2 separate regions of the Homo sapiens genome follow, and region 1 is linked to region 2. Evidence: fine-mapped expression QTL. A gene starts in region 2. The other region holds a variant in brackets. All regions are shown on one strand. Distances are from middle to middle.

Region 1 (8,000 bases), 48 kb after region 2:
ATGGCACTTGAATATACCACAATTTATCAGTATTTGTCGATGGTCATTTGAATTGTTTCCAGTGTGGGGTATTACAAACAAATTTGCTATAAATATTCCTTATTTTTAGTGAATATACCCCATTTTCTGTGAGCTGTATTCCTAGATTTGTTAAAAATTTGGGATAAAATTAACATACATTGAACTGCACAGATGTTAAAGGGCAGTTTAATTTGCTTTGCTGTTTGACAGTTTTATTTTATTTATTTGTATTTTATTTTAAGTAGAATTCTTGCTCTGTCACCCAGGCTGGAGTGCAGTGGCGTGATCTCGGCTCACTGCAACCTCCACCTCCCAGGTTCAAGCAATTCTCCCGCCTAGCCTCCTGAGTAGCTAGGACTATAGGCGTGCGCCACCATGCCCAGCTAATTTTTGTATTTTTAGTAGAGACAGGGTTTTGCCATGTTGGCCAGGCTGGTCTTGAGCTTCTGACCTCAAGTGATCCACCCACCTGGGCCTCCCAAAGTGCTGGGATCACAGGCGTGAGCCACCGCGCCTGGCCTGGCAGTTTTATTTTTTAAAAAAGTGAAAGATTAAACATGCATCTACCCTATGACCTACCAATTCTACTCCTAGGTATTTACCCAAGAGAAATAAAAACATAAGCCCACAAAAGCCGGGTACAAGAATGTTCATAACAGGTTTATTCATAATAGCCCCGACCTGGAAACAGCCCAAGTGTCACCAACAAGAGAATGGGTAAACAAACTGGGGATATTCACACAATGAACGGCACTCAGCAGCAGAATGAGTGAAATACTGAGTCACGCAGCAACACGAGTGCGCCTCAAAAACAGCCTCAGCAGGAGACGCCGCAACACTGCGTGCTTCCATCTAGGTGCCGTTCTAGAGCAGGCGAAACTATTCTGTGGTGACAGACACTTCTGGCAGGGAGACAGACTGGGAAGGGATTCACGTGAGGAACTGATGAGGGAACTTTCCAGGGTGGTGAAAATGTGCTATGCCTTGTGAAGGCTGTAGGTTATATGGGTGTCTATACACCTTTATGCTAAAAAAAAGTCAATTGCTGGTGCTATTTTTCTTGAAAAGGTAGGTCAGAATGAGGGCTGAAACGGACACTAAGGCAGCAAAAAGGGTTTCACGAGATTCCAACTTGCTTAAGATACTGAGGGCCAGGTGCAGTGGCTCACGTCTATAATCGCAGCACTTTGGGAGGCCGAGGCAGGTGGATTGCTTGAACCCAGGAGTTAGAGACCAGCCTGGGCAACATGGCGAAACCCCATCTCTATAAAAAATACAAAAATTAGCTAGGCATCATGGCATGCGCCTGTAGTCCCAACTACTTGGGAGGTTGAAGTGGGAGGATTGCTTGAGTCTAGGAGGTTGAGGCTGCAGTGAGCCGTGATTGTACTACTGCACTCCAGCCTGGGCCACAAAGTGAGACCCTGTCTCAAAGGAAAAAAGAAAAAAGAGTACTGAGGAAGTACTTAGTGCTAATAAGGCCTTTAACACCTAGAAGCTGGAGCAGGTAAGACTCAGAAATGAGCCTAGCCTGGGGCACCTCAGAGATACCTAAGCTTGCAAGAGAAGGAATTCAATGATGGTACTCTAGCTTTGTGTTTCTTTTTAAAAAGTGAAGTTATTTAATCTATGTTGGCATCTAAACAGCGCTCAATTTCTTCTTTTGAAAAAGGAGCCTGCGGCAGGAGGATCTCTTGAGGCTAGGAGTTCAAGGCCAGCCTGGGCAACGTAAATAGGTTCTCAAAATAAATAAAACAAATAAAATAAAATGCTGGAATAGTGTTGCACATGTTGTAAATGTACAGCTCTGTGGATTTTTACAAACTGAACACACCTGTGTAACCAGTATCCCATTAAGAAACATTACCCGCATCCTAGAAGCCGCCCTCAGTGACGTATCCCTGTTTTTCTTGTCAGTGCCCGAGCACAGTCTAACCTCTTGGTCAGCCAGGATGTGCCTTCCTTGTATTAAAAACTTGCACTGATAATGGAAATGACTTGGGGACGCGCAGTTAAGCAAATGTGCTTGCAGGGAGGCAGCCACATGGGTGGGCTGGGAGCGTAGCTTGTGTGGGGTTTCAGGCTCCAGGGGTCTCTTAGCATCTCCCTTTCCATCCTGGCGTGTGTGTGTGTGTGTGTGTGTGTGTGTGTGTGTGTGTGTGTGTGTGTGTGTGTGTGTGTGTGTGTGTGTTGGGCAGAGGTTCCTGCCCAGTCACTCCAATTCTGAGTCTCTCCTCATTCCCAGCAGCCCCTTTCCTGGAAGTTCTCACCTCTCCATTCTCCGGGGGATCCCCATTCCCAAATGTGCTGGTTACCACCAGCACCAGCGTCTCGTGTTCGAGGGACACCACGTCATACTCATCCATACACAGGACCTGTGGGTGGGAAGACAGATGTCCTGGGTGCTGTGGCCCCCGGAGGCCCTGCCCTCCTCACTCTGGCCTCCCTGGCAGTGCAAGATTCAGGCCCCAACTTGATCTCTGAACACCTGTGGTTCCGGGTTCCTCATGAGTCCTGACTTGTAACACTTCCTGTCCTCCAGGGCACCCCTGAAGATGCTGATAGAGCCCCCTCTTTCTAGCTCCCTGCTCCCCTGGGCTCAGCCCTACCCGGGGATCAAAAGCCTTCCGGAAGAGTCTCCCCAGCTGCTGTGCGTAGCTCTGGGCCCGGCCGGTCTCGGAGCCATACAGGATTGTCGCCTTCACTCGCTTCGCCATCACCGTGCCCATGAGCGAGGCGGAGATCTTCACGGCGCTGCGGGAGAGGAAGGTGTGAGGGTGTCCTGGGTGCACAGAGGCAGGGCCTCCCCAGGCAAGGGTCCAACCCCCTCACAACAGGGTTTTGGGATACTGAGTGGTAGGCCCAGAACACTGCTGGGGCAGGGTCCCCCAGGGTGTGTGGGGGAGAGTGGGGCCCCCAGGGTGTGTGTGGGAGAGCGGGGCTCCCAGGGGACCCACTTGGCCACTTCTTTAAAGGTCTTCTTCCTGGTGATGCCGGTGCCCTTGGCGGCACTCCCCTTCCAGGGGTCTGGCTGCAGAGAGATGATGGGGTTGGGAGGGGAGGTAAAGAAAAGGAAAGGTTAGAGGTCCCCAGGGGCTGCTTAGAATTAGAGCTGGGCCCAGGCTGGCAGAGCCAGTTAGGGTGGGCACCTGGTAGCGGAAGGCCGGGGACAGGAAATAGTTGACCATCTCCTGATGGAAAACAGGAGTGAGGCTGCCCGAGATGGGGGGCACGATCCAGGCCCAGTCTGCAGGGCAGCCCCCCCTGGCCTTCTGCTCATTCTCCAGGTGCTTCATGAAAGAGGCCGTGGCGG[C/T]GTGGTGGTCCACGATGGTGACTTTGGCTAGCTGGAAGGGAGAGAGAGGGGGAGAGGCTCAAACCAGACCCACAGACCTCGCCCATTCTTCCTCCACCACTCCGGTCACCCCAAACCACATGTGCCCTCGATTACCCCATATCTAACACACCCTGTGTCCCCTCAAACCACAATGTCACCCTCACCCCAAACCACATCATGCATGGTCATGCTGCAGGTTCAACATGCAACAAGCAGCTCTAATCTCCAGCATCTGCATGCCTGGTCCCCAAACCAAATAGCCCACAGAAATTCTCAGCAGGCCCCGGCTTCCTCAAACTACGACTCCTGGTGTGCCCTTGATCCTGGTATTTGTTTCCAGGATCCAGCGGGTCCCACAAACTGCAATACCCAATATGCCCTGAGAATCAGCATGACTGGGCATGCAGTAAACAGCAAGGTCCCTGGCACACAGTAAGCCACCAGATGACAGCGCCTGGAATAGTACCTGCCCTGTCCCCGAACCGCAGGCCAGTGTGCGCCATGGCACTGGGACTACGGAACTTCTTCTGCCTGTCCAAATCCTGCCCTAGTTTCTAAATGGCTGCCTCTCCTCCATCCCCCGCCCCTGCTGCCCCCGTATGCAAACCCTTTGCCTTCCTGGCCAGTCTGGGCCTCTGCACCTGGTAACTGTGCAGCACGGCCACGTTGATTTCCACTGCTGCCTTGTCTTTCCACAGGGACGAGGTGGTCCGGGTATCCAGGTCCATGCAGACAGCCACATCCTGGGGCAGAAGGGTGTGTGGCATCGGTAGGGACAGAGGTGATCACGGGGGTGGGGTGGGGAGACTATCTCTGTTTCCCGTACATGGCTGGAAGGAGTGAGGTGAGTGGTGTCCATTGGGAGGCCTGGCTGCCTAGGGGGCTGGTTCAGGTTTTTGCCTGCGAAGGCACCTCAGAGCAGAGAGGGACTTTGGGCCAGTCGCTCCTCAGCTCCAGGCTTTAATTTCTCATCTCTAAAATGGGTCTTAACCTTTGCCGAGTCAAGGTCCCCTTTGAGAATCTGATGAAAGCTCTAGAGCTATGGGTCCTATGCCTGAAAGAACAACTACATGTTCACACCCATCCCCATGCCCCCCTCACCCACCCACTCACACCCACACCCACCCACAAACCCACACACTCACACCCACCCACCCCCACAAACCCACAATTTCACACTCACCGCCTACACACATCCACACTCACACCCACATACCTACACTCTCACACTCGCCCCTACACACCCCACAAACCCACACTCGCCTACCCCTACAAGCCCACACACACCCCCTACACACCCCACAAACCCACACTCACCTACCCCTACAAACTCACACACACTCACCCCTACACACCCCACAAACCCACACTCGCCTACCCCTACAAACTCACACACACTCACCCCTACACACCCCACAAACCCACACTCGCCTACCCCTACAAACCCACACACACTCACCCCTACACACCCCACAAACCCACAGTCACCTACCCCCACAAACCCACAGTCTCACAGTCACTGCCTATACACACCCACAAACCCACACCCACCTACCCCCACACACCCACACTCACCCACCCCTACAAACCCACAGTCTCACACCCACTACACACCCCACAAGCCCACACTCTCACCCACTGCACACCCCAGAAACCCACACTCTCACACTCACCCACTCACACCCCCACACACACCCCTGCCACCCCCTACCCCTTTGCTTCAGTGGTTCTAGAGCTTGTCCTCAGTTCCCATTTAGGAGGCAACCCTGGACCTGCTCTGATTGTCCCCGTGGCTGGCATTTTGGGGATGGAGTGAGAGCCAGACTCCTGCCTTGGACAGGTGCATTCGGTGCCCGAGCCCCATCCCGCACCTCACCTCCAGGATGTTGTAGCGGTGAGGGTCACACAGGTTCCTCGTGCCGATCTCAGTGCTCATGTACCAGCCACTGAAGGGGGCTGCGGGGAACTCCAGGCCCCCAATTTCCAGCAGCATGTTGGACACTGCCGGGAGGGCGTACCAGCGCAGGCCCAGGGCTGCAAACCACTCCAGCCTGGGGGTGTTGGGGTGTGGGATCAGCACCCCCTTGCAGGCCCTTCTTGAGAGGCTCAGGGATGGCCCCCTCCATCCCACCCAGTCAATCCCTTTGGTGCTCACGTGGGGTGCTCCAGGGGCACCTCAAGGACCAGCTCGGGGGGCAGAAGGAAGAGTTCTGGGGGATCATCTGGGGCCTGCAGCAGCAGGGGCAGCACGTCGAAGCGACCGTTTCCTGGGGTCCAGCCGTGCTGAATGCAGAGCTGTGGGGAGTGGGCCAGAGGGGGTTCTGGGGCTGAGCCTCATGCCCTCCTCAGGGACCCCTCCATCCACTGTCTCCTGCCTTCATCTCCAGGGTCCCTCATTGGCTGGGTCTCCGTGACCACCCAGGCACCCCTCCTTTGGTGTTTTTCATCCTTTATCTCACCGAGGCTCCCCTCTTCCTGCCTGGATCCCCCGAGCCTTCTCCCACTGGTTTCCTCATTCTCCACCTTGGGGACACCCTCATGGGTGGCCCTCGGTGCCCACCTCGGTGATCTCCACGTTGGCTGGGTCCCCCCGCACAGAGCCATCCTGCTGCCGGTAGCCCGCGTAGCGCACCAGCTGGCTGTTCCAGATTCGGAAGTCTCCTCGGCCAGGGCAGCGCTGCGGGAACACTGTGATGGCCGAGCTGGCACGCATGGGGAAAGAGCTGGTCAGAGCCCCGCCTTCCCTGCCTTGGGGAAGAAGGCTGGGGCCTGGCATGGTGGGGGGCACTCACCGAAGGTTGCCCCGGTTGGTGGCATACTTGATGTGGTTGCAGATGTAGGTGAACATTTCCTGTGCAGACCTGCAGTCCCGGGCATCGAACACCTGAGCCAGCCGAGGCAGCGGGAGAGGAGGGTGAGGAGAGAGACGGGGGGTCTTGAGTATCAGCTCCAGAGGAGCTGCTGGTGAGGAGGCAGGGGCCATGGTTCACTCCATGGCGCCCTCCTGACCATTGGCAGCCACACTGATCCCTTCCTGCCCTGCTCTCTGACATATGTAGCACCATCCGGGCTGCTTCTCATCTCCTCCCTGGGCCAGGTGTCTCCCCATCCCTATGGAAGCTGACTTGGTATCCAGTACAGAGGAGGGACTCGGCCTCTGCCAAACTGATGCTTGGGTTAGGCACCAACGGATGTCTAAGAGGCCGCCTAGGAGTGTGGGCAGCAAATCCCCCATGATCCATGGCATTCAAGAAAGGACGGGTGATTCTCTTTGAGCACATGGATGGTGGGAAGGGAAGGCTGCACCAGAGGCCTCCTAGGACCCTGCTCATCCTGACATTCTGAGTGGAGGCCCCAGGAGGAGGCTGGGAGGTCCCACTCCTGCCTGAGGGAGGAGGAAACATGTGTCAGTGACAGGGGCAGGGGAGTGGCAGGGACCAACCTGGGGTCAAGGGAGGGACGCAGCTCTGAGTGGGGTCCACTATGGCAGCTCAGATGGATCGAAGTTGAGCTAAAGCTTTGAATGACTTAGAGGGTCAGGCAAGTGTCAGATAGGATTGTTTTTATTTTAGTTGAGGTTCCTTTGGGATTCACTGGGCACGTGGCTTTATTTCAAACTCTTTGGCGGCCAGTGATGGTGAAGGAGGCCAAGGCCATGGGACCAAGTCCCCCATGGGGCAGCTTGCTTCTCTTAGTGCTGTGGTCACAGGCGTTCCAGTAACTAAGGCCAGCCCCGAGTCTGTGGGCTGGGGTGTGAGGGAGGGTGCGGGCCGAAGCAGGGGAACTGGGGTAGCAGTGGGTGTGGGTGAGGGGCTGCACTGGACTGGCCTGGCGGGAGAAGCCTTCTCTCTTGGGGGAGAAGCAGCAGCCAGGGCTTTTCCAGGAGGCTGCTCCTGCTACTGACAGCACCGCCCAGGGAAGCTCCGCTCAGCTGTCCTCACCCCCGCAGCAGGTCTAGACTTCCTCACCCCCGCAGCAGGTCTAGACTTCCTCACCCCTGCAGCAGGTCTAGACTTCCTCACCCCTGCAGCAGGTCTAGACTTCCTCACCCCTGCAGCAGGTCTAGACTTCTTTCCCCTCCTCCAGCCAAGGCACTACCATAGGGCCTGATAACCAGGTCTTCACTACTGGGCTGAGGTTCCCCTGGGTGCTGAGGGTGGGGCAGTCCCCCTACCTTTCCAGTCTCTAAGGGAAAAGGCAAGGATCTCCCCCACAGTTTGGGACCTCCCAGCCCCCGGGAAGCCTTAGGAACTGCCCCGCCACCCCGCTCCCCTTTTGGTAGCGCCCGGGTCTCTCAGTCGCTGGCCAGCCGCACCTGCAGCTTCCCCCACTGGATCCGGCCCACGCAGCGGGGAGCGTTGCGCCAGGCCTGCTTAGCCCCGAACACCAGCTCGCTCTCCCTAAGCTGGTAGGTGCCTGTGGCTGCCACCTCGGCTTCCACCTCTTGAAGCCGCTGTTCGTGGGCCTGGGAGCCGCTCCTGGGGAGGAGAGGGGTGGGAAGGGGACAAGCAGGAAGTTGTGTGGGACAGGGAGGCCCTCCTCCAGGCTTTGTGCAAGTGCTGGGGGAGGGCGGGAGGGGCCCACGTGGTGTTAGGATCTGGGAAGGGAGGGGGTCATGGGAAGGTCGTCACGGGGTTTCTGGGGC
Region 2 (12,403 bases):
CTGGGCGGCCTCTTTTTCCCGGCAATGATGTCGATGACCAGTTGAAGAGGATCTTCCGATATCCTTGCTTTCCTCTGCCTTGAGCCCTCTGGGAGGGGAGAGTCCATGGAGTTTTGAGCACAATGGGTGAGGGCAGTGATGGTGTGGGGTAGGGTGATGGGGTCTGTAGGGCTTCTCCTGAGGGCAAGGGGAGAGAGCAGGGGTGCTGGACACCCTGATTGTCACAGTGCAAATGCACACTGGAGAAGGTGTGGCTTGGAGACAGGCAGCGTGCCCTGAGGGGTGAAGCCGAGAGGGTGTCCCTCCAGGTGAGAGATGGATGCCAGGATGAAGGAGCCAAAGAGAACAGGACACATTTTGTGGGAGCAGGGCAAGGACTGTTTCATTAGGACTAGGACAGCAGCATGTGGGTTAGGTGATTGTCATGGGAAACGTGGCTGGATATGCGAGTGACCTGCCTGGGGCTGCTTCTGTCAAGCTCAAGCCGGAGGGTAAAGGGAGGGTGAGAAGTGGGCGGTGGGTATGAGGAATCCCTCCCCAGGAGGGGAAGAGGCCCTCACCCTGCCCCTGAAGATGCAGCTGTGGCCCTTTCCCAAGTGATCCTTGACTCCGTGGACACACTGCTGGGGACGCCCACCGAGGAGCAGTGGCCCTCTATGACCAAGCTGCCAGACTATAAGGTGTGATGGGGAATGTGGGGGTCATGGTTCATCAGGGTCACTCGTTTCACATTCCTAGCGCCTCCATCCCCCTCCCCCTACCTCTAGTCTGACCCTCCCTGCCTCTCCACAGCCCTATCCGATGTACCCGGCCACAACATCCCTGGTGAACGTCGTGCCCAAACTCAATGCCACAGGGAGGGATCTGCTGCAGGTAGGTGACCAGGGGTAGAGGGTGGGTCAGGACACTTGCCCAGTGGGACTACAGGAAGGCAGGGCTCTGGGCAGTGACCTGTCCTGAACCTGCCACCTCCTTTCCCCCATCTCCAGAACCTTCTGAAGTGTAACCCTGTCCAGCGTATCTCAGCAGAAGAGGCCCTGCAGCACCCCTACTTCTCCGACTTCTGTCCGCCCTAGGCCCCGGGACCCCCGGCCTCCAGGCTGGGGCCTGGCCTATTTAAGCCCCCTCTTGAGAGGGGTGAGACAGTGGGGGTGCCTGGTGCGCTGTGCTCCAGCAGTGCTGGGCCCAGCCGGGGTGGGGTGCCTGAGCCCGAATTTCTCACTCCCTTTGTGGACTTTATTTAATTTCATAAATTGGCTCCTTTCCCACAGTCTGGTTGATGTGGTGGTCAAGTGGCTCTACAGGGCCCATGGGCTGGAGGTGTCTCTGGTCTGTTACTGCCGGCCGCAATCCTGCTTCTGGCTCAAAGACAGCACCTTGCTCTTCTACTTTAAGAGGCCATGACCCTCACCCCTCACCCCTGGGGCAGGGCAGCACTGTCGCTGCACACCCCTTCCTCCCACCCTCCCTTCCTCTGCCCAGGAGGGCCTGATGTGGTCCCTCAGAGTGAGGGGAGCAAGGATGGGCTCCCCACCAGGGTGGAGAGGAAAGGGCTGGGCCTCTCCTTGTGGTTCTCCATATCTCAGGTGGATCCTCTTGTCCTTTCCCTCATCATCCCCCCCATACCAAGGCCTGCAGGCTGGCACAGGAGAGCCCCAAAGATATGGTTCCATCAGGAACACCCCCTCCCACTCCCTATTTGTCAGTTTCCCAATGTTTGGGGTCCAGTGAAAGAGAGGGAAGTTGGGCCTGTGGCTGGGGCCTGGTGTGTCCTTACTGGCAGGAAGAGGAAGGGAGGGCTCCGCCTACCCCCACCCCCACCCCCACCGTCTCAAGCCTGGGGCCTTTAGCTCTTGTGGGGAGGCTGAGGAGGCAGAACTTGTTTGTATGGAGACAGGCTGTGTGCCGCACTTGGTCCCAAATGTGGGAAAGGAGTCAGGATGTAAGGCAGGACACAGGTGTTCTTGAAAGTGGAGTCACCCCGTCTTCTCCCTGCCTCTTCTTGCTGAGCTCTGGGCAGAGTTTTCTTCCAGTTATACCTTTATTGCTGACTGTGATTCTGCACCTCACACCTAACCCGGGCTTGGAGGATACCTGTCCTCCCTTCTCTCTAAGATGTCAGTCGGCTAAACTCACTCACACTGAGGTGCAAATGACTGATAACCTCTTGCTACCATTCTCCCCTAGAGATTCATGGGGGTTCAAGGGCCCAGCTCCACATTTCAGAAGCCACGTCCAGCTGGATGATGGCTGGCAGAAGACTTCCAATGCCTAAGTTGGGCTGACCTTGGCTTGGCTAGTCTCTGCCCTGTAAGAGAAACAGCTGAGGCTGATGCATTAGGACTTTATTTGGGGTGAAGACGGAAAAGCTACGTGCAGGCTAGGCATGTCCAGGATGTCAGGGCGGGGCTCCGAGGACACAGACAGCAGGTCTAGAGCTGTGTGACAAGGTAGCAGGTGCGGTGGGAGGCGGAGAGAGTCTTGGTGACGGCACAGGGAGGGGTGGGAGGTCTTCGGAACAGAGCAGAGTGCTGGGGTGGGAACGGGCACACCCACTGTCCTGAGCCTGCCCCTGCCCTCCCTTGATTTTAGGGGGCCATTATGTGTTACCTGGGGCCCAGGCTGAGGTGGGGAACTTGGGTTCGATGGCTGCCCAGCCCTTCCTGAAGCTGTGTGAGGACGAGAGGGTCAGAGGTGGGGAGTGGTCCTCCTCCCAGGGACCAGTCGAGGTCACTGCACACCCTCCTGCCTGTTTCTCCTCAGCTGGGGCGGGATGGTGGTCTAGGCTTCAGGGGTGGGCCCTAGCACCCTTGGAGCAGGCAAGGGCTCCAGAAGAGGGGCTGTTACCAGATTGGTGCTGGAGTGCCTTTGGGAGTGCTGTCGGTTCCAGAAATATCCCAGGACCTTGTCTCGGAACACCTGGAGGCAAGCAGGATGGGAGGTGGCCAGTGCACACCTTCCCCCTCATCCTAGGGGCCCTGATTCCCACCTCCCACCCCCTGCAGTGGGGGCCCTGGCCCACCTCACAGAGGTAGTCTAGGATCTCGAGGATGGTGAGCAGGCTGGCCCCGATGAACAGCCCCATCTGGCCCCCAATGTCACCTGTGGAGACAGGGTCACCCTTCAACTTACAGCCACCTGCCTGCCCACACCCCCCCAGCCCTGGGGGCCCTGCACACACACCAAGCAGCTCTGACATCTCATAGGCCTTCTTCTGCTCCACGGTCTCATAGTTGAGGGCCTCAAAGAAGATGTCCAGGGCCAGCACGTTCTCCCTGAGGACAAGAATGGCCTCAAATGTGGGCTGGCCACCGCCTGGTGCCCACTGCTGGCAAGAAGCAGCTGTGGGTTCTCCCACTCCTTTCAAGAACCCTGGGAGAGGCCGGGCACGGTGGCTCACACCTGTACTCCCTGCACTTTGGGAGGATGAGGAGGGAGGATCTTGAGGCCAGGAGTTTGAGACCAGCCTGGGCAATACAGCGAGTCCCCTCCCCTCCCCTCCCCCGCCCCCCGCCGTCTCTGTTTTTTAAAAGTAAAGATTAAAAAATAAAAGGAAAGGAAAAAAAAACAGACCCCTGGGAGGAGGCGTCAGCATCCCCCGGGGCCAGAAAGATTAAGCAACCAGCACGGAGCCCCAGAGCCAGTGAGGCTGCGGAGGCTGCCTCCGCCCGGGCTGTGCGCACTAGGGCTACGGCCTGGCCTGCCCCGTTCCGCCCCGTCGGGAGCCCCCGGCTCGGAGGAGCCCGCCCGCCCCGCGCAGCTCACGCGATGTAGGCCTCGCTGCGGTTGAGCTTCCGGGCCAGGAAGCGCGCGGCGGCGCGGCTCGGGATCCGCACCATGGAGAGCTCCTTGGCGTAGCGCGTGCTGGCGCACGGGTTGGGGCAGGCGCACGAGTCCTTGCGAAGCATGGCATCTGCGGGCCACCGGGCCGCGTCAGACGCCCGCGGGCGGAGCGGGGCGGACGGGAGGTGGGGGAGGCTCGCCCTTACCTATGGCCGGGTGGGCACAGTTCTTGTACTGCTGGGGGCTGCACACTGGCACGTCGCCTGCGGGTACCGGGGAGATGGCTTTAGAAGCAGCCTCAGCTCCCTGGGCCCTGCCCGCCATGGGACGAAAACCCCAGCCCCTCACCTGGCATGTACACCATTCGGCAGCCGCACTTCCGAGCCACGTAGCGGGTTTCGCAGGCCAGGCGACACCCCATAAGGGTATAGGGAGGGCTGGGGCTGGGGCTGGGGGAGCCTAGGGGATCAGAGGGCTCTGGCTCATAGTTGGGGTTCAGAGATGCTGAACTGCAATCGCCCCAGGGCGGTGGCAGGAAGCTCAGCTGTGGGGGGACAGGGTTAAGGAGGCTTCCCGGAGAGCGTGAGAGGCCAGCTGGGGAGAGGCCCCTAGACAGGTCTGAGGAGCTGAGGGTTTAGGGTCTGAGGTGGTGTGGGCTTGAAGTAGTAGGTGTGGAGGCACACGGAAGGGTACCTGCTGCTGCTGGCAAGAAACAAAGGTCTGGTAGCCCGGGGACACCCCCAAGCCCAGCTGATCGATGATGGGCGGCTCCTCCTGGCTGTGGATCTGCACTCGGATCCCCACCTCAAACGGGGTCTCCTCTGTCGGGGAGGGACCTGTGAGGCCTGACCTGTGTGGTCAGGTCTCCTGCCCAACCAGACAAGACCTCTCACTGCAGCCCCTCTCCCCAGGACTGGGATGAGCCAGCCCAGCCCCTTTCACAGGTTCTGGGGGAACACCCTGACACCTCCTCTCCTCCTCTCCTTCCCCTAGCCTTTTGCACTCCATCCGTGCCCTCCCCCAGCCTCATTTGTGTGCTCCCTACCATTGTCCCTCCACACAGGTAGATATTCCTCCTGCTGCACGTCCAGCATGATGTCCAGCCCATTGCCCATGCCACCCCTAGTAGTGGTGAGCAGCTCTGCCCCATCAGCGCCAGAGTTAAATGTGTAGCACTTTCCCATCCGGGTGAAGATCTGGGGCGGGCAGACAGGGTGATGGCCATCTCCCCCAGGCAGGCACATGGTCATGGGACCTCTCCCCACCTCATGGTATGTTTGCGTCTCTTCTTTGAATACTGAAGCCCGCATCTCAATGCCCCCAGCCCCACGCTCCAGTGGGCACATGTTGCAGGACGCTCTTGGGAGCCCATCAACTCAGCTCCTCCACCCCGCCAATCCCCACCAAAGCCCAGGGCACAGCCTACAGGTTTTTCTGTGTTTCTCTGGGAACTGCAGGAAAAGGAAATGGGCCCCTGTGGCTGTCCTCCGGGGCTGGCAGTATGTTGAAAAGGCAGAGGGAAAGCAAGCCCCCCCCACCTCCTGGCAGAGATAGGGGTCTTCTGCCCCAGAATGGTCCCACCATGGAGGACCCCCAGCCCCAGGAGCAGGGCCTCCCTGGGCCAGACCTCAGGCCTAGGGCCAGCCGGGGTCAGTGTGGCCTCACATGCTCCCCTCGGGCTGGGAGACAGAGAAAGCCCCAAGGAGGACAGCTTCCTGGGCTGCACGGAGTGGCACTGGGGGGTGGGGAGTCCATGGCTGGTAGGAAGGAAGAGGTCCCCTGGCTTTGGGGGAGCCTGTGCTGGCTAGGGAATTGTGGGTGCTGGGCAGGGACTGGTCGGCTCTCTGGGTCCCTGGCAGGATAGGTAGGGAGGTCAGCTCACCGTGGTGAAGTTCTCAGGCCCACAAGGTTGGCCACGGAAGCGACAGTCCAGCAGCATGTCATCCAGGGAGTGCCCAGCACGGGCATAGAGTTGCGCCATGTCAAAGGTGGGACTGGGCATGAAGCCGGGCGGTGCAGGGGGCCGGCCCAGGGCGCGCAGGAAGGCGGCGTGCTCTGCGGGATCCAGGCCCAGCAGCGCAGACCCAGCCCAGTGCAGGTCGTTGGGCGTTAGGCGCGAGCGGCGCAGTGGGTTGATGTTGCACAGGGTGACAGCCGGGAAGATGAGCCGGTGGCTTTCTCGCTCATCCAGGGCAGTCTGGTGGTGGAACTCCCTGTAGTAGCGCACCCTCTCAGCCACCTGGTAGAGGAAGGTGGCCACTGACAGGACCACGGCCGCTGCCCACATCCCCCGGCGCAGGCTCAGGCTGCCTGGCCCGAAGACGTGGCCCAGCCCGTGCATCGAGCAGTTGCTGGCGAACACGCGGATGTCCGAGGCTGGCCGCCGGGCCTCCTCTGGGCCTGAGGTGGGCTTCATGGCCAGAACCCAGGAGCGGAACCAGCTACAGAGGCTTGGAAGAAGCGAGAGAGAGTCAGTCAGGGGGCTAAGGAGGCTAAGATAGGATTCAGGAGGCCAGGCAAGGAGAGGAGAAGAGAGGGTGGGAGACAGCCAAGGTTGGAAGGCAGGGAGGCACTAGCCTGGCAGGATTGGAGGAGGTGATCTGGCCGGTCAGGTCCCACTGTTCCTTCCCGAGGAACAGGCGGTGGCTCCACTGGGCTAGGCACTGGGCTGGGGACTCCGCAGCAGACCAGGTGGGACGTAGCTGACCGTGGCAGGCAGGGGCTGCGGAGCGGTGCTGAGCCGGCGGTGCTGAGCCGGCGCTGCTGCAGAGGATTGGGTTTCAGCAGTAGGGGGGAAAGGGGGCCGACAGAGCAGTCTGGGGGGTAGGAGAGGTCCCTAGGGCCCCAGGCTGAGCCATTAGTGCAGCATGGAGGGGGGCATGGCTGTCCAAGACGAGAGGCGCCAGGAGGAAACCGCAGTAATCCTAGGGAGAGCTTGAGAAAAGCCCAGAGGTAGATTGGGCCTGGAGATGCCTTGGGGCCCCCTAGGCTCCCAGTTGCAACCCCTGTACACTGGCCGCGAGGGTCAGTCGCTGACCCCTGGCCTAGCTCCTCTCTCCTTTTGCCTCTGCGGCCTTCCCTCTAGCTTCACCCAGGATCTGTTCCTTCACGAATACCAGAGCTGGCTCTTGGCCAAGCTGGGAAATGGTTGGAAGGCTGGCATCAGCAGATCTCTTCTTTCTGTGCCCCTAGCATCTCAGCCTACACTGGATGGCCAGGGCACTCTTCATGTCCCACTTCCAGGGCCCGTCTGTTTCCTAAGTGTCCCTCTCTCCCTAGGGAGTCAAAGCCTACCTCCCCACACTCAGGCCTCTGAGGATGTTGGCCTCTACAATGGTTATGGGCTCACCTGCCACCCCAGGTAGAACATGGGTGCCCCACCTGCCACCCTCCCGGGTACCACGGGTACCCCACCTGCCATCTCAGGCACAACATGGGTATTCTGTGATTTCCCATCTTACGCTGCTATATCCAGGACCTGGAAAACCTACATTTTTCCAAAGGGCTGCATACCACCCATTATGTGCACATACCATAGTTTATTTAATGACTCCCCCACTGATGGGCACTGGGGGTGTCCAGTCTTTCCATTACAAACAATGTTGCCGTATCATCACACAGATGTGAACTCCCAGGACTTTGGTGGGCTTTTTTTGACCATGAGTGGTAGAAACATGGTTCCACCAGCCAAACGTGTGCACACACCATGCTGCAACTGCTGGGCCACCTGTCTGTCCTCCCAACAGGACACAAGCTTCATGGGGGCAGGGACTGTCCTCATTCCCCATCGTGGGCTCAATGGCACATGACAGGTGCTTGATTAATAAACACTTTGGAAGGACTGAGTACCATGGTTACAGCACAGGCGTACCAGCTCCCCAGAGCCACAGTGCCATGCTTTGCAAGTATTTACTGTAGATGATCCCACTCACACTCTCAAAACAGGCATTCAGCATCAAGCACAGCTAGGCTCCCACTCTCCACTGTGGAGCGAAGGCCGAGGCGAGGTTAGGAAGACGGCGCGGCTCCTGCGGTCTAGCTCTTCCAGCTGGACTAGCCAAGGGGTTTCACTGCTTCTCTAGGGGGCGGGTGAAGGGCTGGATTTAAAGAAGCCGCCCAGAAGATATAAATCTGGTGTCAGAGGCATTTTGGGCAGCCTGAGGCTGATGACTGAGTGGGTGAAGCAGGAACCACCTTGGCTGGCTGCCTGGTGAGGGAGGGGTCAGGCCAACAAGCAGGGCCCCAGCAGGGCTTGTGGACTTGCCAGCTGAGGCCCTACTCTGGGCTGCCCTAAGGAGGGGTTTAGCTGTGAACCAGCCCCAGGCTCTGCTCCTGGACCTCCACTGCTTAAAGACACAGCCTCTGATCTGTCAGGAAGTGGGATATCAAATCAGGGTGGATGTGGGCCTGGGGTTTTTGGATGGCTTGTCCCCAAAGCACCATCTAGTTCTAAACCACACCCACAAGAGCCCGTGGGTCCCACTCTGGCTCCTGCACGCAAACTTGAGCCACTGCTGCCTCTTCCAGGCTGGCCTCCCAGCAGCACCAGCTGCTCCATCAATGCACTGTATCACACCCCTGAAAGAGGGTACCACCCTTCTTTACACAGGGTAAATCCAGAATGCTTGCCTGGCTGTGAAGGTGCATTGCAGGTACCACCTCTTCTCCTGCCCAGGGGAACAGGGCACCGTGTAGTCCCACAGCCTGGATGTGGCTGGATAGGGGAAGGATCCCAGTAGGAAGTGACAGCGGCACCAACATGGGGAGGGCTGATGCATCTGCAGCAGTGCAGGGACACGAGGTCCTGCTGGGGCACCAGTTCAGCCAAGGACCTACTTGTGTGCCTTTCCAGGCCCCTCAGAAGCCAGCTGGAGCCTAGCCCCCTCATCCACAGTCTCAGGGCCACAGGCGCCCATCACTCAGGATGTCTGCCTTCCCCTTTCAAGGTGCGCCTCCCAGAACCTGCTGGGGATGCTGGCCTGTCCACAGCCGCACCCTCCTGGACCGATTCTGTACTGGATTCTGCAGTAGCTGCTCCATTTAGCTCTGTACTCGTCAGCACTGTGGGCAGGAAGCAGAGAGCTCCAGGTGGGCATCAGCCCCTCCCATCTCCTTCAGTGCTGGGTGTTCTTGGTGTAGATGGAGGCTGGTTCACAATCTCAGTGGGTGAAAGACGCCAGGCACACAGGGCAGGGCCGGTGGAAGACAGCCAGGCAGGCTGGCGCTTCTCGTGGGAACTGGCCATTGTGGCCCCGTCCCTCCTACCCTGACCCAAGTGTTGGGCCCTGTTAGGCCTGTGTCCCTTGTGGGTGGGGAGGGGAGGTGAAATCTAGAAATCAGGACTGTGTTCACTGTGCAGGGAGAAAGGAGGGAGGTTGTTTGGAAGATGGGGACTGTGGGTCCCGGGGTGAGCCAGGGGATAGGCTCCTTCTCCCATGGAGGGAGTGGGGACACAGGAGAGGGAGTCAGTCGCCAGTCTAGGGAAGTGAGGTCCTAGCAAGGGTGTGGGAAGAGCCTAGGTTTGAATTCCCAGGCCCACTTCCAGACCCTGATTTTTAAAAATTCCCTGGAGCTACTGTAGGCCTGGCCAATTTGAAGCTGCTGGGTGGGGCAGGGAGACTGGCCAGAACGTCTCTTGAGAGGTCTGGAGGGGTCTGGGCAAAGGGAGAATAGAGTGGAGGTGTCTCGTGGAACTCTGTCTCTGCCCATTGCAGCCCAATGACTCTGGCAGACTCTGGTGGGAGGGAGGCAGCCGGCAGGACTGGGGAGGGGAGGGAGGGATTGGCCTCCCCTGCCAGCTGCTCGGCCCCGGCTTTATTGTGAGCAGGAGCAGCCGCAGCGACTCTCCACATGCTGGCCCTCCTGGGGGCTCAGTCCCCAGTAGGCTCCCCCAGGCTGAGCCCCAGCCCTAACACTGATGCTTGGCAGCGACCACACCTCAGGGGGCCCTTCTCAGGACTTGTGCTGGTGGCTCCTGGGGCCTTCTGGCTTTTTGGGCGGTGGGGCCGCTGTCCTCGGGGCATCCAGGGCCTGCCTCCGGATGAGCTCGGCGTATAGCCCGCCTTTCTTCAGGAGCTCTTCATGTGTCCCAGCCTGGAAGATGGGAGGGAAGGGCGGATGGTTGCTCCAAGGCATGCAGGCTTCAGAACCCTCAGAGAGCTGAGCCTCTCTATCAGCCATTGGGCCCATGGTCACTTAGGCCGGTGTCCCTTCTGGGGACACTCTGAAACCAATGCCCAATCTGAAAGGAACCGCCACTGGCATGCTGCATTAGTTACTGCCACTTCCTTACTTAGCTGAATTTTGGAAGAACATGATTCCCTCTGTCCCCCTTACAGAGCCCAAGGCTCCAACTCAGGATCCGTCTCCCTGCACGAGCCCCTCAGCCTTGGCTTGAATGAGTGGCTGTTAGCCAACGCCACACGGCCTCTGGGGTCCTACTCCTGACTCCCTGCACAGGTTCCTTGGCGCTGCTTCTCCTGCACCTGATACCCTGGGCAGCTAGCCCTGCTCCTTGCTCCCAGCACCATACTCTGAGTATGTTTCCTTTTTGTTTTTTGAGACAGGGTCTCATTCTGATGCCAGGCTGGAGCGCAATGGCACAATCATTGTTCACTGCAGCCTCAACCTCTGGGGCTCAAGTAATCCTCCCGCCTCCGCCTCCAGAGTAGCTGGGAGTACAGGTGCATGCCACCACATCCGGCTAATTTTTTTTTTTTGGTATTTTGTAGAGACAGGGTCCCGCTATGCTGCCCAGGCTAGCCTCAAGAGATCCTTCTGCCTTGGCTTCCCAAAGTGCTGGGATTACAGGCACCCGGCTAGTACTTTTCCTTTTGATCCTGGGAGCTGATGGTGCAATTATACTATCCCAGGGGACAGAAGAAGAAACTGAGGGCCTGAGAGGCCAGGGCTTGGCTGAATGCAGGAACTCCTGACTCTATATGGGACGCTGCTTCCAGAATATAGCCCCCAAGGCCCTGGGGCCAGGCCACAACTTCATATAACTCATTGCAGCATTGTGCCACTGTCCGTGATGAAGCCATCCTCAACCCACTGATCCACGCCCCCAGGACAACTAACCTCCCAGACACGGCCATCGGCCATGACGACAATGCAGTGGGCCCCACGGACAGTGCTGAGCCGGTGGGCAATTACCAGCACCGTGCGGCCTGCACTGGCCCGGTCCAGGGCCTCCTGTACAACCCGCTCGGACTCTGCATCCAGCGCGCTGGTAGCTTCATCCAGTATCAGCACCGTGGGCTGCTTGATAAGGGCTCGGGCGATGGCCAGGCGCTGCTTCTGGCCCCCAGACAGGGTAGTGCCCCGTTCACCTGGGAAGGGAGGGGCAGGGCAGGAGCCTGAAGCTGTGCACTTGAGGGTGGCCCACAAAGGGGCACAGGGTCCTTCCTGAACGCCCATCAAGATCCTCTAAGTGCCCCTCTCAGCACTGTGCACCCTCCTCCTGCCTCTGACCCCCACCCCGCACTGTGCATCCTCCTCCTGCCTCTGACCCCCCACCCCACACCGTGCACCCTCCTCCTGCCTCTGACCCCCACCCCGCACTGTGCACCCTCCTCCTGCCTCTGACCCCCCACCCCGCACTGTGCACCCTCGTCCTGCCTCTGACCCTCTACCCCGCACTGTGTACGCTCGTCCTGCCTCTGACCCTCCACCTTGCACTGTGCACCCTAGTCCTGCCTCTGACCCTCCACCCCACACTGTGCACCCTAGTCCTGTCTCTGACCCTCCACCCCGCACTGTGCACCCTAGTCCTGTCTCTGACCCTCCACCCCACACTGTGCACCCTAGTCCTGTCTCTGACCCTCCACCCCGCACTGTGCACCCTAGTCCTGTCTCTGACCCCCACCCCGCACTGTGCACCCTCCTCCTGCCTCTGACCCCCCACCCCACACTGTGTACACTCCTCCTCTGGGTTCCCCCTGCACTGGCTCATCCCACCTCTGGGTCCCTCAGCCACTGTGCACACTTGCCCTGCCTCTGAGGGTGGTGTGACACCGCCAGCAGGGCTTGGTGCACTCCAAGGGAGTTGCCAAATGCCCCTCCCCAGCCATGGCAGTGCCTCAGGCCAGGATGACCCACACCCTGCCCTGTGCCTGCAGTTCCAAGCCACCTTCCCAGCCTCCCGGGTCTCTGTGGCTGTGGGGAACATCCAGCACCCAAACATGGGCTCTGGGGTCCAGTGACTCCAGGGAGGTGGGATTCGAAGCCCACAGAGGACAGCACAAGTGGCAGCCTGGGAGCCAAAAAGAACCTCAAGGTGACAGCAGGGTGACAGGTCAGTAAGGACGCAGCCCCAAGAAGGCCCAAATGAGCAGAAAGTACTAGGATCAGAGACACAAGGAAAGTGCCACCCAAAAGAGATGTGGGAGAGCACCCAGTGAGGACAGCTGGCATCTGGACAGTGTATCAACACGGCTGGAGGAGCCATCTAGAACACGATGGCTGGGCTGGGGACACTGGCCCCACAGCTCAGAAGGCTGGACTCAGACTGACCAGAGTTGAGAAGCCCAGGTATCCCTGTATCCTGAGAAGTGCTGAAACACTGTGCAACAGAGCCAAGACACTGGCCGAGAAACATGGCCCCGAAGGCTGGAAAAAG

Evidence for each region.
Region 1: its variant is fine-mapped to the expression of ASIC3 in whole blood (TOPMed, PIP above 0.99).

Annotation. Positions count from the first base shown.
Region 1 is chr7:150,996,596-151,004,595 of GRCh38, reverse strand. NOS3 (nitric oxide synthase 3) reads right to left here. Exons shown (of 27, transcript NM_000603.5): 5 at 7,671-7,833; 6 at 6,148-6,239; 7 at 5,916-6,057; 8 at 5,511-5,650; 9 at 5,232-5,406; 10 at 3,997-4,098; 11 at 3,171-3,365; 12 at 2,979-3,052; 13 at 2,631-2,775; 14 at 2,292-2,396. Among named protein-coding and RNA genes, the nearest start is that of NOS3, 9.6 kb to the right of the region's middle. RefSeq lists enhancers at 2,377-2,877, 2,155-3,354 and a silencer at 4,208-4,370. The variant C/T (reference allele first, on the strand shown) is at 3,335.
Region 2 is chr7:151,042,682-151,055,084 of GRCh38, reverse strand. It overlaps ASIC3 (acid sensing ion channel subunit 3), which reads right to left and starts at 6,554. Exons shown (of 11, transcript NM_004769.4): 1 at 5,666-6,554; 2 at 4,829-4,979; 3 at 4,477-4,604; 4 at 4,132-4,327; 5 at 3,990-4,046; 6 at 3,766-3,913; 7 at 3,184-3,275; 8 at 3,023-3,102; 9 at 2,848-2,919; 10 at 2,611-2,669; 11 at 2,331-2,511. The coding sequence starts at 6,199. The coding sequence ends at 2,433. It overlaps ABCB8 (ATP binding cassette subfamily B member 8), which reads right to left. Exons shown (of 16, transcript NM_007188.5): 15 at 10,864-11,114; 16 at 7,303-9,876. The coding sequence ends at 9,736. It overlaps CDK5 (cyclin dependent kinase 5), which reads left to right. Exons shown (of 12, transcript NM_004935.4): 9 at 1-58; 10 at 620-680; 11 at 793-873; 12 at 990-1,270. The coding sequence ends at 1,076. RefSeq lists enhancers at 1,036-1,536, 2,970-3,548, 4,404-5,042 and a silencer at 3,862-3,971.